Regions from separate parts of the Homo sapiens genome. Here region 1 is linked to region 2. Evidence: fine-mapped expression QTL. A gene starts in region 2. The other region holds a variant in brackets. All regions are shown on one strand. Distances are between the middles of the regions.

What was found. PIP is the estimated chance that this variant, and not a neighbour inherited with it, causes the effect.
Region 1: its variant is the best candidate, but not a certain one, in a credible set for the expression of CAVIN2-AS1 in lung (TOPMed, PIP 0.83).

What each region holds. Positions count from the first base shown.
Region 1 is chr2:192,026,838-192,042,281 of GRCh38, forward strand. All of the region lies in intron 5 of TMEFF2 (transmembrane protein with EGF like and two follistatin like domains 2), which reads right to left. It overlaps CAVIN2-AS1 (CAVIN2 and TMEFF2 antisense RNA 1), which reads left to right. Exons shown (of 4, transcript NR_187184.1): 2 at 7,857-8,048. Among named protein-coding and RNA genes, the nearest start is that of TMEFF2, 160 kb to the right of the region's middle. RefSeq lists an enhancer at 2,369-2,538. The variant C/T (reference allele first, on the strand shown) is at 8,040.
Region 2 is chr2:191,841,589-191,856,755 of GRCh38, forward strand. CAVIN2-AS1 (CAVIN2 and TMEFF2 antisense RNA 1) reads left to right here and starts at 4,900. Exons shown (of 4, transcript NR_187184.1): 1 at 4,900-5,183. CAVIN2 (caveolae associated protein 2) reads right to left here and starts at 5,500. Exons shown (of 2, transcript NM_004657.6): 1 at 4,855-5,500. The coding sequence starts at 5,337. RefSeq lists an enhancer at 5,205-5,713.

The sequences.
Region 1 (15,444 bases), 190 kb after region 2:
TTTTATTTTCTTTTTCTGAAAATTGAATACAAGCACTGGGAAGCATTATTTGCTCACACAATGCCTGACCACATGTGCAAGCCATTAAAAGGGCGTAGCTCCCCTGCCATTTTGATGCAGTCCAAAATAAAAATATAAATGCCAATGGAACAGTTTCTCCAGATATTCTCCAGCTGTCCCTTGTATCATTAATTTTCTTTTCAAGTACAATAATTCACCCCTAACAATAACTTAAATAAGATTTTTTAAGAGGTCAGAAAAAATCCATGTTTAGAGGGGGGACAGTTCATGACAAGGGGGAATAAAGAGAAATCAGTATATGTGGCTTGTGCAAAAATAAGGATCTGAAATAATAACGACAGTCTTAATCTTGCAATATTTGAGGAAAATATTAAGGTCAACTTCTCATTATGGTAATTTTTCACGAAGACTGATTACCAGAATTTAAATCAAAGTTCCACTGCATCATTAATTCACTTATTCATTCATTCCAAAAGCATGTATTCAGTCCTTGCTTTGTGTTGTATATTACATATGATAAAGGCATGTCAGGATATATATCAGAGAGGAGCGCTATCCTTAAGGAGATTATCACATAGAACAGTATACAAAATAATATGTACATGAGTAACTATATAGAGAGTATACGAAAGAAAAGAACAAGTCAAAACAGAAAGATGATGTTGGATGTGGCAGCAACATCTAAAATGGTCCTCAAGGGTCTTGCCTCCTGGTATTCATGCCCTTGTGTAATGCCCTACCCTTGAGTGTGGGCTGTAACTAGTAACTATTCTTGTAAAACAGGAGAAGTGATGGGCAGGGCTGGCTTTACAGGCATGTGGCCAGTGCACACAGGGCACACAGAGTCCTGAACTTGGTTTAATGTTCTGTTGTCATCAACTTGATATTCTTAATCATTTTAGCTTTGAATTTTGTAAATGAAGTCAAGTGAGACAATGGATCAGAGCATGAGCTCCATGAGCTGTGTTCAATATGTGTGTCTGCCTCCTCCCCTTGCCACCTTGTTCACATAGATGGTTCTCAGTGCCTCATGAGCGCAGGATTCTGGTGACCCCATGAGTCATGGGAACTCGTGAGACTCAAAGCAAGTACAAGGTAAGTGCTGTTATGGTTTGGCTGTGTCCCCACCCAAATCTCATCTTGAATTTAACTCCCGTAATTCTCCTGTGGGAGGAACCTAGTGGGAGTGATTGAATTATGGGGGGGGGGGGGGTCTTTCTTGCACTGTTCTTGTGATAGTGAATGAGTCTCATGAGATCTGATGGTTTTAAAAATGGAAGTTTCCCTGCACAAGCTCTCTTTTTGCCTGCTACCATGCATGTAAGAGGTGACTTGCTCCTCCTTGCCTTCTGCCATGATTGTGAGGCTTCCCCAGCCATGTGGGACTGTAAGTCCATTAAACCTCTTTCTTTTGTAAATTGCCCAGTCTTGGGTATGTCTTTATCAGCAGTGTGAAAACAGACTAATACAAGTGCATTACTTCTATGAGTAAGTAAGGAGGAAGCAGATTGCCCCAACAAGATGCCTCTTTTGTTCAAACCAGAGCTTGTTTATCACAGAGAAAGATGGCAATAATGTCCTGAGAAATACGAATGACCAAGGAACGCTATCATACTGTTTTGTGTGTGTGTGTGTGTGTGTGTGTGTGACTTCCCTGGATGTGTGGAAGTTGACTTCCCTGGATTAGCCAACCATTTATACTGAAAATTATGACACTGGTGGAAAAAGACAGGGCAGACTGTATTTTCTTTTCCTTTCAGTCATTTCTTATCAGCAAGCAAAGGTAGGCAGAGTTGGTAGAATGCGTGAGCATCATGATGTGCAATAAAAACAGTTAAATTCGTTTTGTGTAAGTTTCCACTATTCTTGTAAGAATGAAATACACATGAATGTATAAGCTATGAGATACAAATTGTGTAATTTTGGTGATTCTATATAAAAATTAGATGCTCTTATATTTGCATCTAAACCTGGCATAGTACAATATAAAAATGAATGGTAAAATTATGCTAATTATTTAAAATTTTAACCTTTCTCTACTCAGAATGACAAAGCAAGTAAAAATCACCATAGGAAGTCAAGAAAAAGACACCAACAGAAGAAAGAAAAAACCCTTTAAGGGAACTTCTTCCTGCTTTTTGAACTAGGGACTTCACATATTTCTTTTGCATTGGGCCCCACAAATAACAGGCCACAATGATGCTATGTTGCTTCCAAGACTAGATTATAAAAATAATACTCTGGCATCCACCTCTTCTCCCCCTCCCCCCACGTCCATTCTCTACCTACCATCTCTTTCTTAGGGGTTGGGGGAAGGGAGGGAATTTCAGCCATTTTGTCAAGACACCTTGGCCAACAACCACCAAGAGCCTGAGTATTGCCAGCAGACGCATGAGTGAGCTTGCAAGTGGATCTTCCCCCTGCTGAGCCTTGAGAGAACTGCAGCCCTGGCTGACATCTTGATTGCAGTTGTAGGAGGAACCCTAAGTCAGAAGCACAGCTAAGCCACACCCAGATTCCCAACCCACATAAACTCTGAGGTATAAACATTGTTGTTTTAAGCTGCTAAATTGTAGGATGATTTGTAATGCAGCAATAGAAAAGGAATACATTGAGATTCAGTGGAATGACAGCTTCCTCCCAAGGACTGAGGAAGAGTCCTCTGACCTAAATCTTTTAGGATGAGCATTTCGTGATGGAGGAAGTGGCATCACAGGTAGAAGATGCTACGTAATCTAGGCCAGGACAACATTTCCCAAACCACTTTCTCACAGAACCCCATCATAATCTTAAAAATTATTGGAAGACCCCAAAGAGCTTTTATTTATGCATTCTATACATATTGATATTTATCATATTAGAAAATGCAATTGAGGCATTTAAAATTTGTATTTATCGATGGATTTAGAAACAATAACATACCCATTGCATGTTGAGATAGATAACATTTTTAAAAAAATGAATATGCTTTCTAAAAATAAATTCAGTGAGAAGAATGGCACTGTGTACATTTTTGAAAACCCCTTTAATCCTTGGCTTAATACAACAAAGCTGGATTCTATACCTGCTTCTTCATTGAATCTGTTGAAGAGCACATATCAAGTAGCCTCTGGAAAACTCCACTGTGCATTTGTGTAAGAATGAGAATAAAAAAGGCAAATAATATCTTAGTCGCTGGACCACACATTGAGACAAACCGATCTAGGGCATGGAGATGAGAGAGTCCAGAGCACATACTGACTAAACCATGTTGAAGAAGGAAAAATAAGGTTATTCTCAGAAGGCTTGCATATCATAGTCAATAGTTTATTCAGTAGAGGATTTGGCAGACATTATTTGCTGCCCATCCAAAAGCCATTTCTGCTCCCTTTCTTCCTTGCTAAAGAATCCTTGAATCTGTTCAGATATTAGAAGGTCATGAGTTGAGGGAAAGCATGTTGATTGGTGTTCCCTTTCCCATGATTGCTATAAGCACACATATGTGACACAACCATGGTGATGAAAAGAAATCAGCTGTGGTTGGTGGTGATAGCAAAGTGTAAGCTTTCATTGATACAGAGGCTTACTCATTTCTGCCTTTGGTTATTGTGCTGCTTCTGCTTGCTGTAGCCTTCCTGTTTCAATGATGAGAAGGCCAAAGGAATCTGTGAGCTGACCCAGAGCCCGCATGTTGTTGACAAGCCACAGAGTTGCCCAACCTCTTTTATTGTTATTTTGATTCAGGGAATTCCTGAAGATTCTGAAATTGTGAACTGACAAGCCCATGGATGTCTACAAAGAGTGAACTGATCACTGTGGGCTGGCCTTTGAGGCATCAGTGAGGTGATTATTAAGATAGTCAAGTTAAAGGTACTATGGGTCTGAACTACACTGGTGTCAACAGAAACAAAAAGAATACAGTAAATGTGAAAGAACTGTGGAGATAAATTTTTAGGACTTAGCAGCTGAGTAGATGGACATTGGCATGCACGGACAGGGGAACAGAAGGCAAGCATCAGCAATGGCATGGTTAATTCTTCGCCTGCATGATTAGAAGAATAGAACAGAAATACTGCAGGTTGGGCGGGGCGGGGAGTTGATGGGTTAAATTGGGACATACAGAGTCAAGAAACAGATACCTAAAATAGAGTGCATGTGGTTGGTGCTTACATAAATGTTTGCTGTGATCTGGGACAGAAATGATCTGATAGTCATAGGGTTTGTTTCCTCATCTCCTTCACATTTTTACTAAAATATTGCTGCCTTAGGAAAGCCTTCCTTGGTCATCCTATCTGAAATTGCAATATTCATGACCTACTTCCTTAACACTCTTGTCCAATATATCCTAATAAGTCCTGTGTCACTTCTACACTATTTTTTTACCTGAGCATTTATTTATATTAAACTACATATATGCTTACTTATTTATCATGTTTTCCTAATAGAAGGTAAGCTCAATAATGGAACTTTTTATCTGTTTTGCTCACTTTGTAGCTCCAGTGCCTGGGACAATGCCTGACACTTAGCAGACAGTCAGTGAATGTGTTATATAAATGAATGAATACTTGGAGCGTGAGAATCAGAGCGGCAAAAATATTTGTCCATAATATGCCTAAAGATAAAAACGGAAGCCTCAGAACTAGATAAGTGCATTGTAATTGAATGCTGAATTCACAGAGATAACATCTGAGATTTATTAAGCATCAAGTCATGTCTTAAAAATTTTATATACATTTTAGGATTTAACTCTTATAAAAATCCTGTGGGTAAGTACTGTTGTCTCTCCCACTTTACAGGTAGAGAGGCTGAGGTTCAGAGAGATTAGGTAACTCAACTAAGGTCAAAAAGTTGGTCAGGGAGCTGGGCCTTTATATAAAACACCAAAATGAGCCCTTGTGTAGAACCCTTGAGAGAGATTTTAATCTAATGGCTGCAATTTTAAATTGTGTTCAGTTGTGGTATGTAGTTTTTCAAGGAAGATGACCCACAGCCTTTCTTGCTTTCTGGCTTTGGAAAAGGTAGAGATGACCACTTAAACATTCAAGGAAAATAATCCCTGACTTTGAAATCAGAAGATCATTCAGATAATATACTTACTTATAATCATCCTCTCTAATGTCTGACTAAAGCAAGAGTAAAAGATTGACTGAACAGCAACAAATACTTTAACAGTTAAAAATAAAATTGATTGGTCTGTTGGAAACACAAAGCACTTTTAGCCCCATTGGTTTTCTACCTGAAACCAGAGTGAAGTGACCTGAAGGATCTCATAAGATATATAAGACCAGCAACTATAGGAAAGATGATACTTTTCTTGAAGTCATATATTGTCTAAGTTGAAGTTACATGACTTAGAAGGTCAGATGTGCCATCTTTTCCCTTAATGCCCCAGAGATTCTCTTCACCAAGAAAATGACTACATACTTATTTCATTTAAAACAGACTCAGCCTAGTGATGGTTTTCCTTCTTCTATAAAAAAGCAGGCTATTCATGAAGATAAGGACCCTTTTGGCTTTGCAACACGTTTTCAACATTTTACTCATGGACATGAGATGGTAAAACAAGATGAAAATGATTCTTTTATTGGGCATTCAATTAAAAAATGTCATGACTTTGCCATTAGTTTGTATAAATCCTAGAAATGAGTTTCAACGAGAGTGTGTTATTATGTTGGGAAAGAGACGGAAGTGTATAACCTTGGGCAGATCGTTTAACTTCTCTCTGCTTTACAGTTACAAGCGGTAATACAAAGAGACAGGATTATATGATCTCCAAGGTCCCATCCAGCCCATTTAACACGGTATGATTATTTGAGAGGCAATTTAATGAGGTAGTGAGAAGCCTGGGCTCTGGAGCCAGAATGCCTATGTTCAGATCTTGGCCCCCTTCACTTATCAGCCATAGGACATAGTGTAAGGAATGTACCTCCTAACAGTTTCTCCCCGTTTCCTCATCAGCAAAATCAGGATAGGAACACTCACAGGGTCCTTTTGAGTAGCAAACAAAGTCGTCTTTGTGAACAATTGCTGTTAATTTTATATTATAAATAAACCTGTTGTTTTTTTCTCTAACAACAACAAAGTAACTTTCCTAAGATTCAGGATGGTATGGTTTTTCTTGGTTTAAGCTCTTTATTTAATACCTACACTAGTATTCAAAGTATAAAAATAGATTAAAGCACTAATTTTGTTTTTACAAACCCAAACAATTGGTTTGATTGTGTTAATACCCACTCACCTCAAGCCCCCAGTAGAATAAGTGCTAACATGCATGGCCTATTTAAGTGTCTGCTTTGGAGTCAGATAAAGAATTTCTGTGATGAACTAAGACACTATCATACAGGTAATCAATAATGACAGAACAAATACGTTCCTCCAAATCAGTATAAATAATAAATGTTTAAGACATAGGCAAAGATACTTTTGAGATAAACTTCTTTAGATAAGCAATTCAAAGAAAACTGAGATTGATGATAGTTATTACGTATATTCCTAATAACTTCATATAATAGATGTTCAAATTCTCTTTATATGAATGAGAACCTGGTGACTCAGGAAGGTTAAGAAATTTGCATAAGGCCACACAGCAGTAAGTGGACACACCAAAATTTAAGCCAAGCAAACTGATTTTAGCAGCTCAGCTCTTAATTAGACTGCTTTTAGCACAAAAAAACCAGTTTGGATTTTTTTTTTTTTTTTTTTTACACAAAACCTGTGCTCTCTCAAAATACCAAGCTGCCTCATTAGATAAGTCTCTCCATACATCCATCTGTTTGGCCCTCCATCCATCAATCCATCCAAACATATTTTTCCCTATTAAATATGACCAGGAGGACTGGAGCTCTTGGTTCATGGTCAATGAATAAAGATAGGCAGATTTTTACATTTAAATTTTGATATAGTGTGATTATCCCACACCTATGATTTGGCTACAACTCAGTCACAAATTGACCATCTATCCTGGTAACAAGGCCTTTTGTTAGTGAGAATTCTCTAGTTAGTTTTTACTAACTAAAGAGGTTTGCACCTCTTTCTCCTTTAAAAAATCCTTTTTTTGGCCAGGCATGGTGGCTCACGCCCGTAATCCCAGCACTCTGGGAGGCCTAGGTGGGCAGATCACGAGGTCAGGAGATTGAGACCATCCTGGCTAACATGGTGAAACCCCATCTCTACTAAAAATACAAAAAATTAGCCGGGCGTGGTGGCAAGCGCCTGTAGTCCCAGCTACTCAGGAGGCTGAGGAAGGAGAATGGCGTGAACCCGGGAGGCGGAGCTTGCAGTGAGCCGAGATCGTGCCACTGCACTCCAGCCTGGGTGACAGAGCAGGACTCCATTTCAAAAAAAAAAAAAAAAAAATCCTTTTTTTATAAATATGATTTTGAGTATCAAGAAAAAATAAAATTTAATGAGTATGTTTTTCATTTACAGTTCACAAATCTTAGAATTCCAGTTAAAATAACAATCTCAATATAGTGTTAAGTACAAATCCTAAAATTTAAAGTTAGGTTATGAGAAGTAGTCAAAGATTGAGCTGAAAAATATATTCATTCCCTTCCCTTCCACTCTCCCATCACTCCTCCATGGGGAAAAAAAATCACGAATATGTTGCACGTTGTAGGAACAAAAATGGATTTACCTTTTTTGTCTTCTTTTCCTTTTACTAATCTCTACATTGGTAGGTCCTATATGGAAAATCAATTTCTGCTTTATTCTTGTAAGCTTGGTTTTATCTTTCTAAATATATTCTTCTTGTCAGAACCCAATCAAGCATTTTACTCTCTCCTGTTTATAAATTGTTGTCCTACTTTATAATTTTGGTTATGATTGTCTCTGGTTCATTTTATCCTTTGTCATAGGCATTGTGGCTCTGGAGACCTGGAAGCACTGCTAACTGTTCTCTCGATTTTCTGACGCTCGGCCACATCAACCTGTCATACTAGTTGTGAGGAGAAGTCAAGGACAGTGACACAGCCAGCCAGTCTGAGGCATTTTCCATCATCCTGAAGGAGTTGCCCTATCCTGCTTTTCACTGGAGGGGG[C/T]ATGGATGGGTAGGTAAACACACCTGCCGTGAAGTTTCCAGTTCTATCCTCCTGCAAGGCCTTCGGGGATAAGTGTGTTAGAAGATTGGTCAGTATCATTTGCCAACTTGATGTCTCTTCCTTTTTTAATGATCCTTAGTTTCCCCACTGTTTCCTGTCACAGGATTCAATTTCACTCCACATTCATCCTTTCTTACTGGGCACTGATGTTGAGAGCATCAGGCAGGGTATAATGTTATGTTGCAGTAACAAACACCCTCAATATCTCAGTGGCTTAAAATGACAACGATCTTTTTTTTGTTTGTTTGTTTATGCTCTATATCACCCAGGGATCCTGGATGACAAAGCAGTCACCTACTTGAACACTGCTAATTATGAAGTCAGAAAGAGGAAAGTTTGCAGAGTTTTGTATTGGCAATCAAACATTCAGCCACAGGTCACAGTCTAGAACCAGACACATCAGTGTCCTCAACTGCAAAGTAGCCAGGAAGCAGCATCCCATAACACAGTCCTATGTCCACTGTTTTGGAGGTAGGAAATTGGAAATATTCAGTGAGTAGCACTGTGAGTAGGGCAGTAATTTCATTTTTTAATTAAACAAATGGAAGATGGCAGCTCCTCAGTTTTTTCTTCTATGGTTTATTTCTGATGTCTTATCTTAATTAATATATCCTGATATCTATTTCCCATTACTTAGTCTGTCCTTTTTCCCAATATCCAGTTATTTTCAGTAAATATTTTCTGTCATTACACCCAGCAGTCTAACTTTTTGCGACTTCAGTGTCTATTCTCATTCCTCAGTCCCAAATCCATTTTCTTTATTAGATTTATCTGAACTCCTGCAGCTCTTTCTGTCTGCATCACACAACTTAACCTTTAATTACTTGCCTACTGGGCATTCTACTTGGTTCTGCCTTTTATCAGCTGAATCAGAACATAACTTTCTCTCACCACCTCCCTCCCCTACTCCAAATTGACTTTACCTCCTGATCCCCTATTTCCAAAGTGGTTCCATTATTCTTCTCAGTGCTCAGCCTTAACATCTTCGTTTCTGTTTGACTTCTAATCTCTGGCATCTCATAATTGTGCAGTTACCAAACTCTCCCCCATGAACTCGATGTGCTCATGTGGATCAAATGACACAGTAAAAGTGAAAGCACGTTGTAGACTCCAAATACAAGAGGATACTGCTCTCTATTCCTTCAACTATTTTTCATTCCTTATTTATTTATTCATCATTCATTTATTCATGTAGTTACTCAAGACCTAAGTGTTTTCTTGGAACTGTGTTTGTTACTGAGGAAGCCACAAATTAAATATAAGTCTGCTCTTCAAGAGGTTACATTCCAGTTAAGGAGATTGCATATCCATATTTCCAGAAGTACCAATGTGATTGAAGCAAGGGAAATTGCTATGGGATATCTGACCAACTGGATATTCTGCTGGAAGAGCAGAATGCACTTCAAAGACTAGCCAATAAAACTCTCATGTAAGATATGTTTTTCTTTTTGTTTCTATTTAACTAATGAATAGAACCTCAGTGATTTAAGGAAAGGCAGGCCCATGATATGGAAAGAGAAGGGGATGATGATGATATTCTGGAATGGTCGTGCAAGGCTTCAGGAGGAAGTGAGAGTGATGATTGAATCATATAACTCCTGAATAAATATCTGGAATAAACATCTCCAGAATAAAACATCTGGAGGATTCTCAGTATACTTAGAATAAAATTGAGCCTCCTCATGAAGGCCTACTAGCACCTTCATGATCAAACCCCTTTTCAACTTTGACCTTCTTTCTTATTTTAGGGGCTCCTGACACACTGACCTCTGTCAGTTCCTTCAGCACACCAGGCTAATCCCCAGTCTTGCGCCTTTGGACCAGAGGTTTTCTTTGCTCAGAATACTGTTTCAACAGATCTTTGCATAGCTGGCTCTCGCTATTTGACTAAAATGTCAATCCTCAGAGAGGTACTCCTTAAATATCCAATCTTAAGTAGCATCCCTTTCTCCCAGGATCCTGTTTTTCAGAACTCTGTTTTCTTTTTAAAACACTTGTTATCTGAAAGGATGTCGTCTGCTTGCTTGTTTGTTCATTTCTTTATTGTCTATTCCATCTCACCCCTTCTCAGGATGTAAGCTGTTTAAAGGCAAGGACCTTATCTGTGTTACATGCTGTATTCCCAGGGCTCAGACAGAGCATGACCTATCGTATGTACTAAATAAATATCTCCTCATACTGTAAAGCTTTCCTGACTCTAATCTCTCTTTTGGGGACCATTACCAAGCCTCATTACTGGCTTCTTTCTCTTTAATGCCACTTTTACTATATAGCAAATGTTCTGGCCAGTGGGATGTTGCTAGAAGTGCAGAATGCACTTCTAAGACTAGCCAAAATAAAGAAAGAAAGAAAGAAAGAAAGAAAGAAAGAAAGAAAGAAAGAAAGAAAGAAAGAAAGAAAAACAGAAAACAGAAAAAAAAACCTCTCACTTAAGTTTTTTTTCTTTCTATTAAATTAATGAATAGAACCTCAGTGAGGTTCTATTTCCTTAGAAATAGAAGGAATTTCTAAGGCAGGTCCTTCTGCCTTAGAAGGAAAGGCAGGTCCACGATATGGAAAGACCCTTGGCCCCTGCAGGACCTTGTATTAGGCTGCCTGATTGGCACCATCTTCTCTGACCTATGATGAGAGTAACAAGTGTGTGTGTGTGTGTGTGTGTTTGTGCGTGTGTGAGAGAGAAAGAGAGAGAGGAGAGAAAGAGAGAGAAAGAGAGAGAGAGAGAGAGAGAGAGAGAGACCTCTGAGAATTTGGCACTTATCTGTTATAGCATTTGATATTGCTTACCCTATCATACATGGCAACAAAATCTTCCATCATTTGGCTACATGCACTTTTCTAACTCTTCAAGTACTATACACATTCTCAACCATAAACTGTTCTTTCTTTTGAAAGGACAGTTTTTCTGTCTTAATTCTACCTTGACTTCTATCCTATAGCATTCTGCAGTGAAAAGGACATGGACCTTGGAATTAAATTTGAGATTGAACTCAAGATCCACCTCAACCTACCAACATATATTCGGCATGTTACCCACCTCTCTGAACCTTGCTTTCCTTCTTTGTACAGATGGAGGAAAGTCACGACTAACCATTCTGTTGTGAAAGATTAAATAAGATGGTGCACATGACTTCATATATGTTCATTAATACATTTCTTTCTGTTTCTTCAAGAAACTTCTTTCCCTTCTTTACACATGTAAAAGTCCTTTGAGTCTTACAAGTTCTTCACTATGCCCCAGGTTTTCTAGAGCACATTTGGAAAGAATGTTGACAGAACAGGTAAGAGTACGACCTCTGGGTTCAAATTTTGGCTTTGACCTTTAAGAGCTAAGTAAACTTAGACAAGTTATTTAACACCTTTGTACCTCAAGTTCATCATCTTTAAAACTGGAATACTAATAGTACATAACTTGTACTGCTCTTTTGAAGGTTCAATGAGTTAAGGAATGCAAAGTCCTTAGAAGAGTGTAGTGCACAAAGTAAGCACTACAACAATAATACTTAGTTGTTATTTTAAATTTTTTTTTTAAACCTTTCAAACCTAACCATCCCAACTCCTACTGACACTGCTCTTTTCTTTCTTTTTTTATTTATTTTTTTGAGGTGGGGTCTCACTCTGTTCTTAGCTCACTGCAGCCTCTGCCTTCCCCAGCTCAAGTGATCCTCCCACCTCAGCTTCCAGAGTAGCTGGGACTACAGATGTCCACCACCATGCCTGGCTAGGTGTTTTTGTAGATACAGGGTTTCACCATGTAGCCCAGGCTGGTCTAGAACTCCTGGACTGAGCAATCTACCTGCCTCGGCCTCCCAAGATACTGGGATTACAGACTCGTGAGACACCCTGCCCAGCCTCCTCTTTCTATACTTAAGATACTTGTTGTACCCATTGTATTGTTTTCCTTTTAAAAAGAAAGCCTTCCTGACAAGTAACTTTGCAAGCTACAGTTTTTAATATCCACACTGTTCTATATCAACCCTTCTAGCCAATGTTATAGGCAGCAAAAATAGAATTTAACTAAATTACATTTAAAAAAATGCAAGCCTATGGCCCTCATGCACTCTACTTTATTGCCATGTGGTTTTTGGTCCTTAATGCAAAGATATTTCCCGCCCCCCCCATCTAACTTAACATTATAGTAGAAGACTTTAATTTGAAATGGTGTCTTGGTTTAGGGCAAACAAAAATTGAGGAAAAGACAGGCAATAGACGAATAACTGGGTTAAAGTTTTCAGCAGCCTGATTATACTAATGAAGGACTACAAGTCCTATTGTGAGGATTTATAGGAAAAAAAGGCAAATATAACTAGAAAATTATTGGTTATTTATCAATTCTATGAATAAAAAAAGAAAGAACAGAATTGGTAGTAGGAAGTCTTATAAGTAAATTTATCTCAAAGTCAGATTGGATGTTCTAAACCCATAATTATAATTGCTAGGCCCAAAATTGGATATGTTGCTATTGCTTTGTACATTTTTCTCTTTGCTTCTCATTTGTGTTTTTAATCAATTAATTACAATTAAAGCAAGGATATTTATCATAAAACTTTGATCAGACCAATGTTTTCCAATCTGTGCAACTTATATAACAGCAATTTCTTTTATTCTTAGTAGTAAAATAAAATATTTACAGAAAAATAAACTATGTTGGGAAATGGTACTTCATTGCCACAAACCAAGTCATCTAATTTCCCAACTGTTCATAAAGTAGTTTTGAATAAATCGGAGAATGGTTCAGGAAACACTATCCTAGGACCATCTCAGGACACCAGGCATTCATTCTTATTCTGCCATATGAACAAGTGATTTATTGCTCAATAACTACTTAGTTTTGCTGTCTGTGAATGTGAATTATAATTTTAAAGATTCACATTAGATATTTTAGAGATGCTTCCTAATCTCTGGCTGAGATTATTGATAATTGAAAGGAGACTAAGGAATACAGTGGCCATGTATTCCTCATGTTTTACTCCTGTACTGGCTCATATAACTATAACAATGATATGCCTGGATACCAGTATTCAAGTTTTAACAAAGAATCACCTACAATTTTACAAGTTTATCAGTAATAAATTATATTAAGTTCCAATATAAATAATTTTATGTAATTTATAAGCTAGTAATCAAAGATAGTGTCATTTATTTTATTCAAAATCATATTAAATGTACACAGTATACATTTTTGTAGAATTCAGAACTGGTAAAAGTATTTCTTGATGAACTAGTTGTCTTTTCTAACTACACCATAAGAGTTATTTCTTTTCTTTCTCACCTTGAATTCAGAGCACTCAGAGATAAGCCTTTTGATTAATAGTAGCAGCTTCTCTTAGCCTTGGTTTTCCTTTAAATCTATTATTTCTATCCTGCCTTTTACATTCTTCCTTCTCCTCAACATTGTCTTTTTATTCAACTCGAATTTTCTCTCTTATTTAAGTATCTTCATTATATGTTTACCTTTTGTCATAGCTGCTTCAAATCCTTTGAAGAGCTTCCTATTTTCTGTGCTTTCTAAAGAGGTGACTAGCTAATATGAAAAACTTGTTTCTGTTAATGTATAAGGATTAAAATATAAAGTGGGAAGTCTTGCCTTCTGGACATGATAGATTATCTTCTCAAATTTAAAAGTCACTCTGGAAATTTTAGGCCAAAAAGAAAGAGAAAAAAATGCCACTAGGACCACTGGGGACGCTTTGGGGGTAGTTCTTTAGAGCTCACAGTAGTTCTTCTGCTATGATAGATGATGTTAGAGCCCAAAGAAACCATAGAAACCTTATAGAGCAACACCCTCATTTCCTGAATTTTACATATGAGAAAATGAAGTCCAGTTGTAGCATAAGAATAGATACATAGATCACCGGAATAGAATGAGACTAGAGAAATAAATCTTTGTATACAGGGTCAATTGATTTCAATAAGGGTGTCCAAAAAATTTGATGATGAAAGGCTAGTCTTTTCAACAAATGGTGTAGAAACAACTGGATATCTACATGTAACAAATGAATTTGGACCCCTTCCTCACTCCATCTGCAAAAAATACCACAAAATGGATCACAGACCTAAATATAGAGCTAAAACTATAAATCCCTTAGAAGAAAATATTGGAATAAATATTTGCTCCCTTGGGTTGAGCAAAACCTTCTTAGATATAACAACAAACACAAGCAACAACAAAGTAAATTGGAGTTCATCAAAATTAAAAAGTTTGTGTTTCAAAGGATACGGTCAAGAGAGTGAAAGGCAATTCCACAAAATAGAGAAACTACCTGCAAACCATATATCTGCCAGGGAACTTATATTTAGATTATATATATTTTTAAAACTCTTACAGCTCAATAACAAATAGACAAATCGCTGAATTTAAGAATAGACAAATGATCTGAATGGATATTTCTTCTAAAAAGATAAACAAATGTTCAATATACAAATAAAAAGAGACCAACACCATTAGACCTGTGAAATGTGAATCAAAACCACAATCAGATACCACTTCATACCAACTAGGATAGTAATAATCAAAAAGACAGATAATTACAAGCATTGGCAAGGATGTGAAGAAGTGTGGACACTCATACGCTGCTGGTGGAATATAAGTGTTGCAGGTACTTTGGAAAATAGTCTGGCCCTTCCTCAAAAAGTTAACCATAAAGTTACCATATGACCTAGCAATTCCACTCCTATGTATATACCCGAGACCTGAAAACATACATTCCCACACAATCTCGTACATAAATGTTCATAACAGCATTATTCATAGTAGTCAAAAAGTAGAAACAACCCAAATGTTCCTCAACTGATGAACAAATAACCCAAATATGGTATATTCATACAGTGGAAATACTTTTCATGCTAGGGAAGCCGTAGAAAAGGAGAGAGATGGGGGATCAGCGGGTCAGTAAAACATATAACGTTTTATCAGTTAAGTTTACTTGTTTTATATGGGTTTGGTTTGGGTGCCCCAAAACAATTACAGTAGTAACATTAAAGATCACTGATCGGCCAGGTGCGGTGGCTCATGCCTGTAATCCCATGGGCTGGGGGAGGTGGATCACCTGAGGTCAGGACTTCAAGACAAGCCTGACCAACATGGTGAAAACCTGTCTCTACTAAAAATACAAAAATTAACTGGGCGTAGTGGCAGGCACCTGTAATCCCAGCTACTTGGGAGGCTGAGGCAGGATAATCACTTAAACTCAGGAGGCGGAGGTTGCAGTGAGCCGAGATCACACCACTGAACTCCAGCCTGGGCAGTAGAGTGAGACTCTGTCTCAAAAAAAAAAAATCACTGATCACAGATCTTCATAACAGAAATATTTGAGAAAGTTTGAAATATTGTGAGAATTGCCAAAAT
Region 2 (15,167 bases):
CAAATTACAGAGTTGATTCCATAGTGTACTGATACCAAATGTGTTTTGTTTTATGTAAGAATCAAAACTCTAGGACCTGAGTTGCATTGGAGAACATTTTTCATTCATTCAATTCAAATAGATATAGATTACAAAGCAGTGGAAGGGGCAGCATTTACTTGGAAGGGCTGCATCTGAAGGAGTCTAGTTTTTTTTTACATAAGAGTATGCAATGATTCTTTCTAAAAAATACCAGCAATAATCAGTTATTCACTTAAAGTGCCTGGGACAGTGCTCACATTCACTAAATGTAAATAATAACAATAAGAACTAATATTTTGTTTATCTCATAAAGTAAAAGGGCACTGGATAAGTAACACATCAAAACTAATATCCCATATGGGAACATTGTAGCGTGATAGAAACATGGCGAGTTGTCATATGAAGGCGTCTTTTATTACCTATATCCTCATTTCTTCCAGGTCTGTACTAATGTAACAGTCTTCAAAGCAGTGACTTTGGATAAAGTACAGGCTTTTTAAAAATGGTCTGAAGATGTTACACTTTTAGCGTCTCTCTAAAATTCTGACCTTATCAAAGGAACCCAAAGGATGAAGATTTGAACACATTTATAGGCTCCATTCTCCAGAAATGTATCCACTGCAAATAGCTAACCTTTCTACTTTTTTCACCCAGTTTCCCAATTTTATGTGGACGAAAGTGTAAGCTGTCCAAGAGTACTCTCATTTTGCTCCCTGGATTTGAAATCATCTCCCAACTGCTTTTTCAAATAATCATTACTAGAACCTAAGAGGACGTAAGAGGCTACTGCATCCTCAGGGCCAGTTACCTGTGAAATTCTAGTCTCTTAAATCAAAAGAGAAAATTTCCTCATAAGTGTAGAGTAACTGATTTTCTGTACAAATTCTATTTTTTCTTTTAGTAAATGATCGCTGTGCTTAGAAGCAAAGTCTCAGTCTTTCTTTAGCATTTGCTTTTTGATCAGCAATGCCTATGAGTCTTATTTTATTTATGCTGGGTCATGTCACAGTATTTTGAATTCAAATATTGATCTGAAGCTATTACAAAAAAGTTTAAAAGAGAAAACTGCTGAATTTAACTAGGATTTTAAGATTTATTTTATTGCTGAAAGAGAGATGAATGTTTCTTCAGTTTTAGACACTACTGGTTATAATTTAAAGTAATTGCTAAGAAATTAGATGCTTAACAGCTATAACAATGTTGTAACACTCAGTACAGACTTAAAGAAGTAATGTCACGTTTTGAGTGGGACAAATTAAGGACAAAGTTTGGAATTTAAAAAATGCAATTATGGCCAGGCATAGTGGCTCACGCCTATAATCCCAGCACTTTGGGAGACTGAGGCGGATGGATCACCTGATGTCAGGAGTTCAAGACCAGCCTGACCAACATGGTGAAACCCTGTCTCTGTTAAAAATACAAAAATGAGCTGGGCGTGGTGGCAGGGGCCTGTAATCCCAGCTACTTGGGAGGCTGAGGCAGGAGAATTGATTGAACCCAGGAGGTGGAGTTTGTAGTGAGCTGAGATTCCACCATTGCACTCCAGCCTTGGCAACAGAGCGAGACTCCGTCTCAAAGAAAAAAAAGAAAAAAAATGTGTAAGTATCTTCAACCACTAACCAAAACAGACCTGTAGATTTCGGCGGGCTCAACAGGATTCCACAAACTGAAAATGTACTCTTCTCAACAGTACCATACCAAATATGCTCAGGTCATGGGATAGATTTTCCTTTCTCGCTCTCTTATTTTTACATAATTTTTTGTCTTAAATTAGAAACAGTAGATTTAATAAGGGGAAGTCTGGCATAGGGTTCAGATGGGCTGAAAATGATAAATTACCTAAAGACACTGAGTAACACCTGGTACATATTTGCCCTCCACATTCTCCACAGGTCTAGGAAGCAGTCCCCTTATGCTCCACTGTGAAGATTATGCTGTGACTGGAGGGTTCGTTGAGTAGGTCTTTTGGGAAGATTCCTTTGCTTTCATGGAGATGAGATATAATGTTGATTTCAACATGGCGGTAGTTATACAATACATGGTTCTCTGTGTGTAGCGGAGCTGTTTTAAGATCCTGGGCAAGGTGAGGTCAGTTTTTACCCAAGGACCATATTTCTAACCAAGCAAAAGTGTAGCCTTCTTTCTGAGCAAATGAATTTCAGATCCACTCAGTAATATCTTCTATTCATTGAGCACTTATACCATGCCAGTCCTTGCTAACTATTTTAAATGTTATTTCTTTCATTCCTCACTCTATGAGAGAGATAGGAGGGAAGAAGCATTAGTGTTCAAGAGTACGTGCTTTGAAATCAATTAAACATGAGTTTGAATCCCAGTTTCACCACTTGCTTACTAACTAGCTTCAGACAAGCCATAAACGTTTTCGAATCTCAACATCCTCATCTGTAGATTCGGGATAAATGAGATAAGATGCTTACCAATGTATGCTGGGTTTATTAAGTGCTTGATTTTTTTTGCTCTTATTAATATCATCAGTGTATAGATGAGGAAACAGGTTTGGAGAAGCTACAAACTGTGTCCAATATCACATATTTAGCAAGTGGTAGAACTAGGATTTGAACTACTGTTTGTGTGACTCCAAAATTTATCTTCTGAACTACTATACTGGACCACTCTCTAATACAAATTATTATTTTATCCATTGGCATAATTACTACTCTGGGGAAACTGCTACTTTTAGAAGGAACAAGAGAGTCCACTGAGGGACTGTGCTTGCATTAGTTTTATACAAAACAATCATCTTGCGATGCCTTGAGAGTTGAGAATTCTAATATCCTTTAGGCTAATAAAGGATCTTACACGGCTTAAGAAAGGTCCAGTCACTTGCCTCTAGTTTCCTGCCTCCTAAAATGCTCTTTAAAGGTGTCCTTGGGGATTGTTTTCTAAAGGGCCCAGAATGGAGTCCGAGCACATTTCTGTGGATATTCTTAGCTTCCAGTTTGGTCTTGAGCACCCCTGTTTCAGCTTTTACTCACTATATGGAGAATTTCTACCATATCTGGCTGCAATTTCACACCTGTCAATTCAATGTGACAAAACAGGAGACCATGTCAGACCCTCACAACAGCATATGCCTTTAAGTTCCCAAGCAGTTTTTTTTTAATGTCAGATTTATAATTCTCCTGAATTTCTACTAGCATATCCTCTCCATCCCTCCCCCCAACATCTGCAGAACATCCATGACAAAACAAAACAAAACCCAATCCTGACGAATTGTGACTTTCCTCTACAAGATAAATACTTTTTTCCTCCTCCTTAACTGAGGGATGGGACAAGAGATAATTTGCCTGATTCATACTGGAAGCAGGAAAATTTCCTTTGGTGTCTCAGACTTAAACAGGTCTGTACATGTTTGGTTTTGTTTGGAGATCAGTATTTAATTTAGAAATGGCTTGAGAGCTGAGATTTCTAATATCTCTTAGGCTAATAAAGTAAGGATCTCATATGGCTTAAGAAAGGCCCAGTTACAGTATCTCTTTTCAATTCATCTGGTGCATGAAAAGCTACTGCATTTGCATTAAAAGCTGAAAAGTTTTCAGCTGCAAAAGCCTGCAAGGTAGAGGAGGACATAGGCTCCCTAAACCTTTACAATATTCAAGTGCAATTTGAGGAGGACAAAAAAGCAGCGAGATGAGTCTTTCCTTTTATGGGGGTAGGAAGGCTTCTAACTTGGCAGAGCAGATTCATTTTGAAAAAGAAGACTCCCTCGGTTTAAATCCCAATTTCTAAATCTCTCTTGGGAGATGAAGGCTTTCCCTGTGTGCCTTTCACAATCAAACTGTTGGTTATAGCCTCTCCCCTCCATGGCTTTGAAATCCTCTCCTATTCATATGGTCACAACGAGACAGCCCTGGAGCGAGGATGGCAATCGCTTCCTGGGCTCTGTGCTGGCTGGATTCCACTGGGCGGAAGGGCTTCCAGCATTAGGCAGGGCTGCCCTGGGATTCACAAATGCCCACCACTTGGCGGAACAAGAGCCCCACGCAATCTCCCTGTCCCCAGATAGCCTCTTGCTACATTAATTGCATCATTGATGCATTAAAAAAAATTAAGTGGCCTTTTTATTCTAAGGCAACCGTTTGAAGGAGAAACATTTAAGACTAGCCTTTGTGACTATAACTGATAACACTCCTTTTATTTTACTTAACAGTTGTGGTCTCTCTGAACAAGGAGAGGCACGTCTAGTGTGTTTGTACTCTCTTTTTCTAGTGCATTTGCTAGAAAAGAACTCCACAAGATTGCTTTGCCCCAAAAAAGTCTTAAAAGAACAAGGCTAACTCTAATGGAATCAATCCTCTATTTGATTGGTCCCCAAAACGTTGATAGCCTTTGTATAAAGGGATAGTTTGACTTTTTGGTTAAAAAAACCACAAAATACCTCACATGATCACTTCATTTCCACTAAGAGTTAATGAACAGCCACTGAATTAATTTGCCCTGTCCAGCTAACAGCTGCAGCCAGAGCCCTAAGCTCCTAATGCAAAGAGACAAATGAATTTGACTAGGGTGCACGCACCTGCACATCTTCCCAACCTGTACAGAGTGCATCCAGGTGCTCCCTGACAAATGACCCGGGGCCTACTAAGCCCGGGGACATCTTCTTTGGATTAGTCTGTAGTGACCTGGGAAATTCCCACCCCTGTGTGAAGATTTCACATTTGCTTTCCGCAGGCAGACAGGGGACAGTGCCTTGTATGTGTGATCCCTGACAGGCAGGACAAATGTAAAAATGGCTGTGAGAGCCAGGATGAGCGAGATCAAGAATGATAAGGAGTTCCAGCCCGCCTGTAAGGAGGCATAGGGGGAACTGACCTGGAAGATGAGCACTTTGAAATGGTTGCGTCGGAGGAGCTGGGCGTGGTTGTTCTCCAGCCGCTTCACCTGTGCGCACTGCCTATCCATGCGCTCTTTGACCGCGCGCGTGTGGGCGCTGACCTTGCGGGACTTCTCCAGCAGCTTGCTCACCGTGTTGCTGGTGGAGGCCTGGTACTTGGAGAGCTTGGTGAGGTCATTCTGGATGCCCTTCACGGAGCCCTCCAAACTGATCTGTCGCTGCTCCATCTTGTGCTGGTTCTCCTGCACAGCGTCTAGCATGTTCACCAGCTTGTCCAGGAGCGTGAGCACCGTGACTGCGTTCACCTGTGAGTTGTCCCGGATGGCCTCCTCTGTGTTCCCTAGGTTCAGGCTGGGGCTTGGTGTGGAGGAAGGCATCGGGCTGGGGCTCGAGGGCTTTTCCTGCCGCATGTCAGACCCAGGGTGCTGGAACTTTTCGGCCTGTGCAGCGTCCTCTCCCATGGCTAGGCAGGTGGGAACGTTCTTTCTCTCTGGGAGCTGCTTCTTGCTCGGGTGAGAAGTTGCGGTGGTGAGGGTGTAGGATGAGGCCCGCTGGTTGGAGCTCAGGGCACCAGTCTCCAGGACTGGCAGAGGTTCAGACAGGCAACAACTGGCTACGCTGATCAGGGGAACTGCATTCCAGCTGCTCTTAAAGGCCCTACTCCACCCAGTGGGAGGAGAAGTTTACAGAACTGAGAACCATTTAGGGTTCAGACGTATGCACACACTTCCTAACCGCGTTCTGGGCACAGGACACTTTGTTGCAGGTTTAGCTTTTCTTTCCTGTTCCCCTTCCCTTTCAATGTCATATTTCAATCATGACTTCATCTAGAGGCGGAGAAAAACATGCTAACTTGGCCCAGCTCCACAGCTTCCAATTGGCTAAAGCTGGTAAACTTTTCTCTGGCTGCTATGCTGCAGATGCAACAGGGTGCCTGTTTCTTTTTCCTGGATACAAGTTATTGTAACGGAAAGTATTGTTTGCATTTGCCCTAGAACTGACTGATGGGTTGCAGAACACCGGGTGTCCTACTGGGAGGCATAGAGTTTAAAGGGTACTGCAGCCAAGTTTGTATTATTAGTTTCTCATTTGCAAAGGAATGGGACTAACTCTGATAATGATAAGGAAAACAGCTCAGTTCTTATTACTCTTGCAGTTGCAGATACAAAATAAGTTAAAAGAGATTGAACTTCAGGGATATTTAAAAAAAGTAATACTGCTGTTATGACTGTTATGTAATATATGGAAACTTTTTGAATGACCACATTTAAAAAAATGATTGTTTTTTTCAAGAAGTGAGACTGAGGAAAAATAAAATGTGGTCTTTTTAAGAACCTACCGTGATGATTTGTTTTAACTAACTTTGAGTTGGTGAGGAGAGACTTTCTCAAATGCCCATCTCTGCAAGGCATTTATTGACACGTGCCCAGAAGTGTCTGTTGGCAGGCTGAGTTGGAGTTTCTCAAGTGGTTCTAATGTTTGACATTTTAAAATTCCTGCTCAGTGAAGTGGCACACCTGTTCTCAAATGTGGCCCTCCTCAGCTGAACCTTGGGATGTGGGGCTTATTTTCCTAAAATGGCTTTACATGCTTGAGTTGATTTTAAACGTATCCAGCCTTTGAAAGTGCTTTCAGCAGGAAGTTTGTAATAGGCCTTCTATGAACAATTTTGAGACGAACAAATGCCAGCTCATACCAGGTCAGGGATTGATAATGGAACAATGCCATTCGTCAATAGTAACACCTACATGTAAGCCAATCAATCAGCAGGCCATTGGTTATCACGTTGGTTGAATCTCTGCCTTCTGCTATATGCATGAAGCACTATCCAGAAGACATTGGCAAAGCATGACGGAGACCCTGCTCTCAATGAGTATAGCTGCCAGTTAGGAAGATGAACTAAAGATATTTACAGAGGCCTTCAATTTCTTCAGATAATTGGTGCCACCAAAACCCACTTAAAGCAAATGCTTTAAAAATAGAGACCAAAAAAGGTGAAAAGAAGGTTTGGTTGAGATGTTATCTTTTAAAAAAGTAAGAACATTATTAAAATTAATTTACCTTATATTTAATAAAATTTAGTTGGTCAAAAATGTGTTAAATATTAGAATAAAGGATGAATCAAGTGTTGATTTTAAGAAGCATAATTTTCTAACAAAATTATATGATATCATGACACGACGTCCTTTTACATTTGACTTTTGTGGGCAAATCATAGAGTGTCACTATTTCAAAAATATTTGAGGGCTTCATCAATTTTCCAAGAGCCTCTCTTAAATTTTGACATTCAAATCATTTCTTTTTGAAGCACTTATTGTGCCATCATCCATGTAGATTTGTTCTTCTTCAAATGTTAATGTTAACTATTCCAGCTGCAGATTCTCATTTGTCAGAGGAGTTGCCCATGATTCAAGGGCTTCTCTAACATTACCTTCATCAACTTCATGATTTCCTACATATTTTGCAAAATTTGCGATTTCACATTATAATCACTTCACCCTGATTTTGCATTGATTTGCGCTGATTTTGCATTGCATTGTTGGATATTGTATAATCAGCTAGATGAATAGAGACATTAAAGAGATGGGGTGTGAGGTGGTAAAAGGAAAGAGGCTAGTTGTTAAATAGAAAGAAAGGTTTGCGTGTGGGCTTATTTATTTTTAAAATATATATTTTGAATAACACAAGTAATATCAGTCATCTATTGCTGTGTAACATACCAGCATGAAACTCAGTGGCTTAAAATAACGTTTTATTTACTCATGATTCTGTGGTTGGCTAGTCAGGGCTCAACTAGAATGGATTATTTCTGCTAGGCATATGCATTCATCTGTAGTTTGAGCTGAGGAATCTGAGATGGACTCATTCACGTGTCTGCCTCCTCAGCTGGGGCAACTAGGATATTGGGATTTCTCTCTTTTCCATTTTTCAGCCTCTGGGGCCTCTCCATCTGATCTCTCTAGTAGGGAAGTCAAACTTTTTTTACATGGTACTTCAGGGTTCTAAGAGAGTAGAAGCAAAGCTGCAGGGTGTCTTAAGGCTGCAGGGTATCTCTGGAACTCTCCCCTTGTCACTTCTACATTCTGTGTTCCAAGTAGGTCACAGGCCAAGATCAGATTCAAGGGGTGGAAATAGACTCCACCTCTTTAAGAGAGAGAAGCAGTAATGTCCCATGACAAAAGGGTGAGCCGCTTGGGAGAGACTGTTGTAGTCACCTTTGAAAACAATCACCACGTGAATAGATTGTTCTTTTAAAAGGCTATCACAGATAAAGTGGAGCCCCTTTTGATCACCATTTCCATTTTATTCCCTTCCCTCTCTTGTCAGGTAATCATTTTAATGAATTTGGCATATATCCTTTAAAAATTATATTTAAAAGTGATCAGTTCATTAGTGAATAGTTTCATGCTGTGATGCAATTTGTTTTGTTGGACAACCTTACAATCAGGGGAGCTAGAAGGAGCTATGTAATGGGAACATACAAGATGGCCTGAAACTAAGTAATAGACTACCCTGAGCAGCCAGACTTACCATTTAGTTGTCCTAAATTAAGTCTTCTTTCTGTCTGAGAGAAATCAGTGAATTTCAGCGGTCAGTTCTTAAAAGAAATGCTTAAAATAATTAATTCTACCTACCACATATTATGAAGTTTCTTGGAAATTAGGTAGTGGAGTTTAGACTTGATACAGTGACAGGCTGGGGAGGTTTTTGAACACGTGAAGGTGATGTGTTTAAGAAGAATCTGTACAGCAATAAGATGTAGAGATGGGTCACTTGGCTGGTGGGAAATAAGTGCTAGGCACTGGGGATGCAAAGATGAATGGTGTGTATTTGTTACCCTTTAAAATCTCCCACCTTAGGAGGATAGGTAGGTAGACAAATCCTAGGGATAGAGGTACAGGTGTGGGCACAGAGAGGGAATGATTAGCTCTGCTGGAGTCTAGGACCATGAAGGCTTTAGTCATGACAGGGTATGGTTAGGACTCAGAATCCTCCAGCTGATCACCAGCTCCCCCGAACACCAGTTAACCTCAGAGGTTTAAGTCACAGAAGCACAGAAGTCATTCCAGGAAAATACCTACTTTATTATCAGTTAAGGAATTGGTCCCAATTTCTATGTGGTTTCCTATTCTGAACCACTAGCCCATAATTCCTAGACCAGAGGCAGCTCAGTGGTCTCTTTTGTTGACCTTTTCCATGTAGGTCCATAAAGTAATCTGGGCACTCTTGGTCTGACAGCAATAGGAGACCTGGAATGAGGATCCCACAGAAAAGAAAGCCCTTTGCCCCAGTGGCTAAAGAAACAAAGAAAGCTAAGCAGGCTACTCCATATATATTTTCCCCTGTCCTCTATGTTGGAGTTTGAAAGCCTTTCAAAGGGTGGGTTTCCTCTTGAACAGGAGGCAGTCCTAGGGTTGTATATTCACCATATGGAAAGAAAGAAAAACCATGTGATGACACATCCACGTGTTTTATGTCATCGAGTTTTGGGGTGATTTTTTAATGCAACAGTAGATAACTGGGAACTGTAGTTTGCAATGACAGTGTAATTCTAAAATAATTATTGTTAATAGTCTAGGTTTGTTCCTAGAACCCCTCTATCTAATATGTTTTATGCATACTACTGTTTCCAAAACTTAACTGCTAAGGTAGTGTTATAAAGCAAAATAAAGGACTTTGTGTGATTATTCTCACCTTAAGAAAAACTTAACACTGGGTTTAATACCAAAAGGTGGTAGGAAAAAAGCATATTACCAGGATAAAATGCATTATGCAGAAAGGAAGGTGGAGTTGAAAGATCATCTGACCCTATCTGGGCGAACTCTATATCGAGTCATTGAATCCTGCAGTGGGTGTGGATAGAAAGTGAGGGTGCAGTTTGCAGAATGCCTGAACGTCTTGCCTTATCTTTTTCTACGGCAGTGAAGAGGAATCAAGTGTTTACTTTCACTAGAAATATTAATGATGAAAAGCACATGATTATATGATTCGAATCTCTTCCAACCAAAGTCCTTGTGTATCAATGATGTCAGTAAGAAGTAGAGAAATGTATAAGGAAATCCTACATAAATGAGTGATGAAGCATAAATAATGTATAGTGTTTACATATAAGGTAAATTTTACCCACTTCCCATGTGCTGTCATTTAGGAACTCCAAGATTTTAGAAAACTCTAGAGGAGCTTACATTCTCAAGGCCTTCTCTGGCTCTTGGGTTTAAATAAGTGTTTCTCTATGTGCCATATCTGTACTTCTCCATAACTGCCCGGTTGTAAACTCCAACCCCTTCTTTAAGTATCATACAATCCACTCACATAAAGTATTTCTAAGTGGAGTAGATGTTAATGAAGTTTTAGAGTCACAGTTAGGAAGATTTCTGACATCTTGCTGGTTTTTCTCCTCCTAGTTTTCTTTCTTCTGTTTTCTCCTTACCTCCATCCACTCTCTGTATCATGAAAAGAAATATTACTCAAACACTGGACATTAGGTTTTATGTTCTACCCCAAGAAGATATGTTATTATTATCATAAAAGAAAGTTTTCTCCCTTTCTAAGAAGAATTCTGGTGCTCTGGTGCCAGTTAACTCTTTTTTACTTTTTTTTTTGTTTTTGTCAAGAACACAGGTAGGAAGACACATTAGAACATTGTTCCTTCATAAGTCATTCATTTAACAAATATTATTGAGTAAATATTAAGTGCTAGGAATACAGCAGTGAACAAGAGACAAAGCCCCTGTTCTTATGGAGCATATATTTTTGGCAGGGGGAGGGGTGTGAGATTGGAAACAGATAATAAATAAAACACAATGTAATATCAGATAATGATAAACACTAGGAAGAAAACTAAAGCAGACTAAGCGGCCTGAGAGTGATGAGGATGCTATCTTAGGGTGGTCAAGGAAGTCCTCTTTGAACCAGGACCATTTAAGCAGAGATATGTTGCAGGAATCTGGATGAGAGGAAAGGGCTTTCTTCTGTAGCAATTTGTCGTTTTTAACATGGTGATATAGTTTTAGTTGGGCACATGGGCATCCAGCTAAAGACAACACTTCCCAACCTTTCTTTGAGCTGGGTGTGGACGTTTTACTGACTTCTGTTCAATAGATGTGAAAAGTGATATGGGCCCCTTCCAAATGCTGCCCTTCAAATAATTAGTTGTGTGCCCTGTTGATTCTTACCTTCTTTTCCCCGTATTTCTTTTTTTTTTTTTTTTTTTAAGGAGATGTCAAAAGCTGACTGTCGACACAGAAATAGAAACCATTGACTTAATGATTGAAGATGGCAGCTCTTCCTGCTCTCTCACTCTTGTCCCCTTACCTCTCTCTCCCGCCACCTTTTCTCATTGCCCTTGGTCAACAGAGTAACAGTTAAGAGCATGGACTCTCAAACCAGATTTCCCAGTTTCTGATTCCAGCAAGGTTGTATGACCTTGGACAAATTGCTTTTCCTTTGTAGGCCCCAGGTTCTTATTATAAAATGAGGATAATGATAATTCTTACTATTATGGGTTGTTACAGAGATTAAATGAGTTAATATTTGTGAAATATTTGGACCAGTGCCTGGAACAGGTAAGCAGCACATGTGTTAAATACATAAATTAAATAAAAACCCTTACTAATATAACTATTTAGTTCAGCCTCATGGCTTTGAAGGTGTGACTTTATTTCTTTTCAAAAATATGTTGATATCTTGTATTGCATATGCCATAGTAAAAATTAATGCCTCTTCTGCTGTCTCTATCTGCCCTGTTCATTCACTCAGTACTGTGTGGCGTACCTTAGGGAAATATATGGGAGTGCCTTGGCCTTTCTTACACATAAGTTAATCAACTGCCTTAAGTGAATTGCTATATGCTCAGCACAGACTTAGACTTTCAGACAATATGAAATAAATATAAATCAACATCTTCATCCTGGAGAGGTTCAGAGTCTTACAGGAAGAGCAAGATTTACGCACAAGAAACAGTTAGAAGACAATACAAGGCAATACCTGATGAAGTGTTGAATTTGTCCTTTTTTAGTTTCAGGAAACACTTAATATCACAATAACCCTTAGTTTTTGTTTTTCATTGCAGACCCCTAAAGCAAACAGGAATTGAGGCAAAGAGCTTTAAATTAAAAGGATAATTTAGTAATAATGCTTTTCTTATAATACAGCATTTTTCATATATGATGTCTTGAGATACTGTAAAACCTTGGAAAATAATGCTTGAAGGAAATGGGTGGGTATCTATTGTTTTTCCATGACCAAATTGATGCTTAGGGGAAGTCTAGGGCTCTGCAAAGAACAGCAAGATGAGCAGATAGATATAATATGCTCTTCCTTCCCCGGCTAGAGGCAGCGTTTCCACCCTTTTCCTCAGTTTTCCTTTCCCTGTCTCGTGACACCTAACTGCTGTTTATTGAATCTTAAATCTCTCCCATGAAGGCGATTTTAGAGATTCCTTTGGTCACGTTTCAGCGTTTAATAAGCCTTATTTTGAAATTGTTAGTTTTGAGGTCTATCTTGTGAATTTGTTCTTTGAAGTTTCATGATAGATGGATGTCAAGAAGTCATAAAATTCTGTCCTCTATTAAAGCAAACAAACAAGCCCATAAAAGCCAAGGACAACAACGGAAATGTGTTACCCTGTCTGAAAAGAAAGTTATATTAATTTGAAAGCTTTAGAGAAGGAAATTCTAAAACCATTTTGCTAACCAAGTCTGTTATATGTCAGGAAGTTCTTCATAAATGATTTAAATCCTTATCATAGCAACATAAAACCATTTCCTCTCATTCTGCTGTTTTTTGAGTTAATGAATAGTCATATAATGTATTTTTATGAACTACCTATTGTCATTTTTCTGTAATTACTACATATTCATATTAAAATTTAGGATTCCTGGTTAAATCAAGGCTATCTGGATAGAACCCACTGCTTATAAATAACTTTGTATCAAAAATATTTTGGCAATGCAACTTGATTCAGCAATAAAATATTTTTGTAGGTGAATAATGGTGGCAGCTAGAAGCATTTGCCTGGTGGTTTACACTTAGGAAGTACTTGAACTATCTTGAATTATCTCTGAATGCTAAAAATGTGTGATTCCAAATTCCTTTCCCTCTGGCCTCACATTTGTTGGCTTCAAAGAACTATTGTCTTAGTGGAAGCTATGGCTCTATTCCAGTTGAAAAAATAAATAAATATTGAGCGAGCCAGAAATCCAGGTAACAAGCAGAGGTGACAAGAGCAGAGGGAATAAGGGTTTGGCTGACTGTCCTCATGTACCTGACTGCTTCATTAAAACATATTTTCAGTATCTCCTCCTAAAACAATTATGGGCTGTTGCACAGGCACAGTCATCATATCAGGGCTGATTAACACAAAACATGATGGAATTTATTATAATGTGAAAGGAATTTCGTGTCTTTGGGGCTTACTTTCCTCATTTGTAAAACTGGTCTCTGATTTCGGAGGCCTTTTCCAGTGATATTATTTTATAATTTAATGAACACTTTAACACATTTTTTTGCAGAGTAATTTTGTTAGTATTGTCTCGCATTCTCAACTTTAAAAACAGAAACAATACAGCATTTTTTGGTCACTAGATTTCACCTCTTCTCACAGTCGAGGTAGTTTGACAAAGTGTAGTGTTTCAGTGGACTGAGAAATCAAAAGACCTGAACTAGATTTTTGGCTCTGACACTAACTGGATGACATTGAACACTCAACCTTGTGGGCACTGGCTTTCCTTATTTATAACATGAATGGTTTCACTGTATGATCTAATTCAATTCAACAAACAGTTATTAATTGCTTCCTGAGTTTAAGACCTTTGAATAGGACATAAGGGTGAAGTTGGGGAAAATACAAATTAAAAGCATGGAGAAAGAAACTGTTAATGAAATATGCGGCCAGTGAGAGAAAAGGACAGAGTTAAGCATTACAATAGAAAAAAACCAAAGTTCTAGGAGCACAAAGGAGGCAATGAATACATTTCGAAGTTTTCAAGTATTATGAAAGATAATGTTAACCTATAATGGAAGAGCCCTTCAGGGAAAGATGTATTTGGCCTGCATTTTGGACACCGTAGCTAGCGGATATAGTTCATTGCAGCAGCTACTTAGAGCCACAATCTACTATGGTGATTAGGCATGTCCATCTCTCGCTGCTAATTTCACTCCTCTGCAGGGTGTAAGAGAAATGAAAACGTGGGAAGATAGAGTTTTTCCAGTTCAGGGATTGACCTTTAAAGGAATCAGGGCAGAGAGAGGGTTATGTCAGTAGAGTAAATGAGTGTAAATATCCCTGACATAAGATTGAACTAATTAAGTTTAAATGGGAGGGAGCCTGATCTAAATTAGAGAAAAATATTATCTAAATTATAGGATCTTTCTTTCAAAAAATGCAATGTAATTATATTATTTTCAAGTATATGTGGTAAGTTGAACTAATTGCTAGAAAAACATTTCTAAGTTTAAGTGCTATTGGAATCTTCTTTTAATGAATAGATAAATTTGGATTCATGCGGACTATCCTTTGGAATGCATATAATTTATGTGTTAATATGTTTGAAACAAAATGGCTAATCAAGCTCTTTAAATTTTGTTCATGCTGCTAATTTGTTTAGTGACCCCCTTTATATAAATAGTTCAGAGGTAAACTCAAGTCCAATATGGTTCTAATTTTCAAAAGTTCGTTACGAATTAGTGGAGTCTGAATGAATGCTGTCTCACTCAGGTTCTTATGTGCTAGAAATGGTGCAACTTGTTGACAATCAGATCTGGCACTGTTATCCCTAAAAAGCTGTCGATAAAATCAAATCATAAAGGGAGACCAGCTAACTGCTTCAGGCTGTCATATACCATGTCATAGTAAGGGACATGACTGATGAGGTTCTGGAGGCTCTTTTTGGACACAAATATATTGATAGCAGTTGGAAGATGGAAGTAAAACAAAGTGGTCAGGAGAGTTCCTCACAGTGTCTGTTCAAGCTTAGCTATTGTTCAGGTAGGAAGAAGGTCAGATCCAGGCAAGAATTAAGGAGAAGCCGAGATGACAAAAGTTTAAAAGAAATCCTGAAAGAGGAAGCAGTCTGGATGCAGGAGCAGGCAGAAGCAAGGAGATACCGGGTGGTTTTCTTGAAGAGCATTCAAAACATGGGAAACGCCATGTGAAATTCTGGGGTCAGCTTTTTGAGCTAATCACACTGGTATTCATAATGGCAGGAACTGTTGTGAGCTGATCTTTGACTCTGCCTCCCAGAGTCACATGGTCTAAAATACCCAAATCTCCAGTATGTAGGTCCAGAAA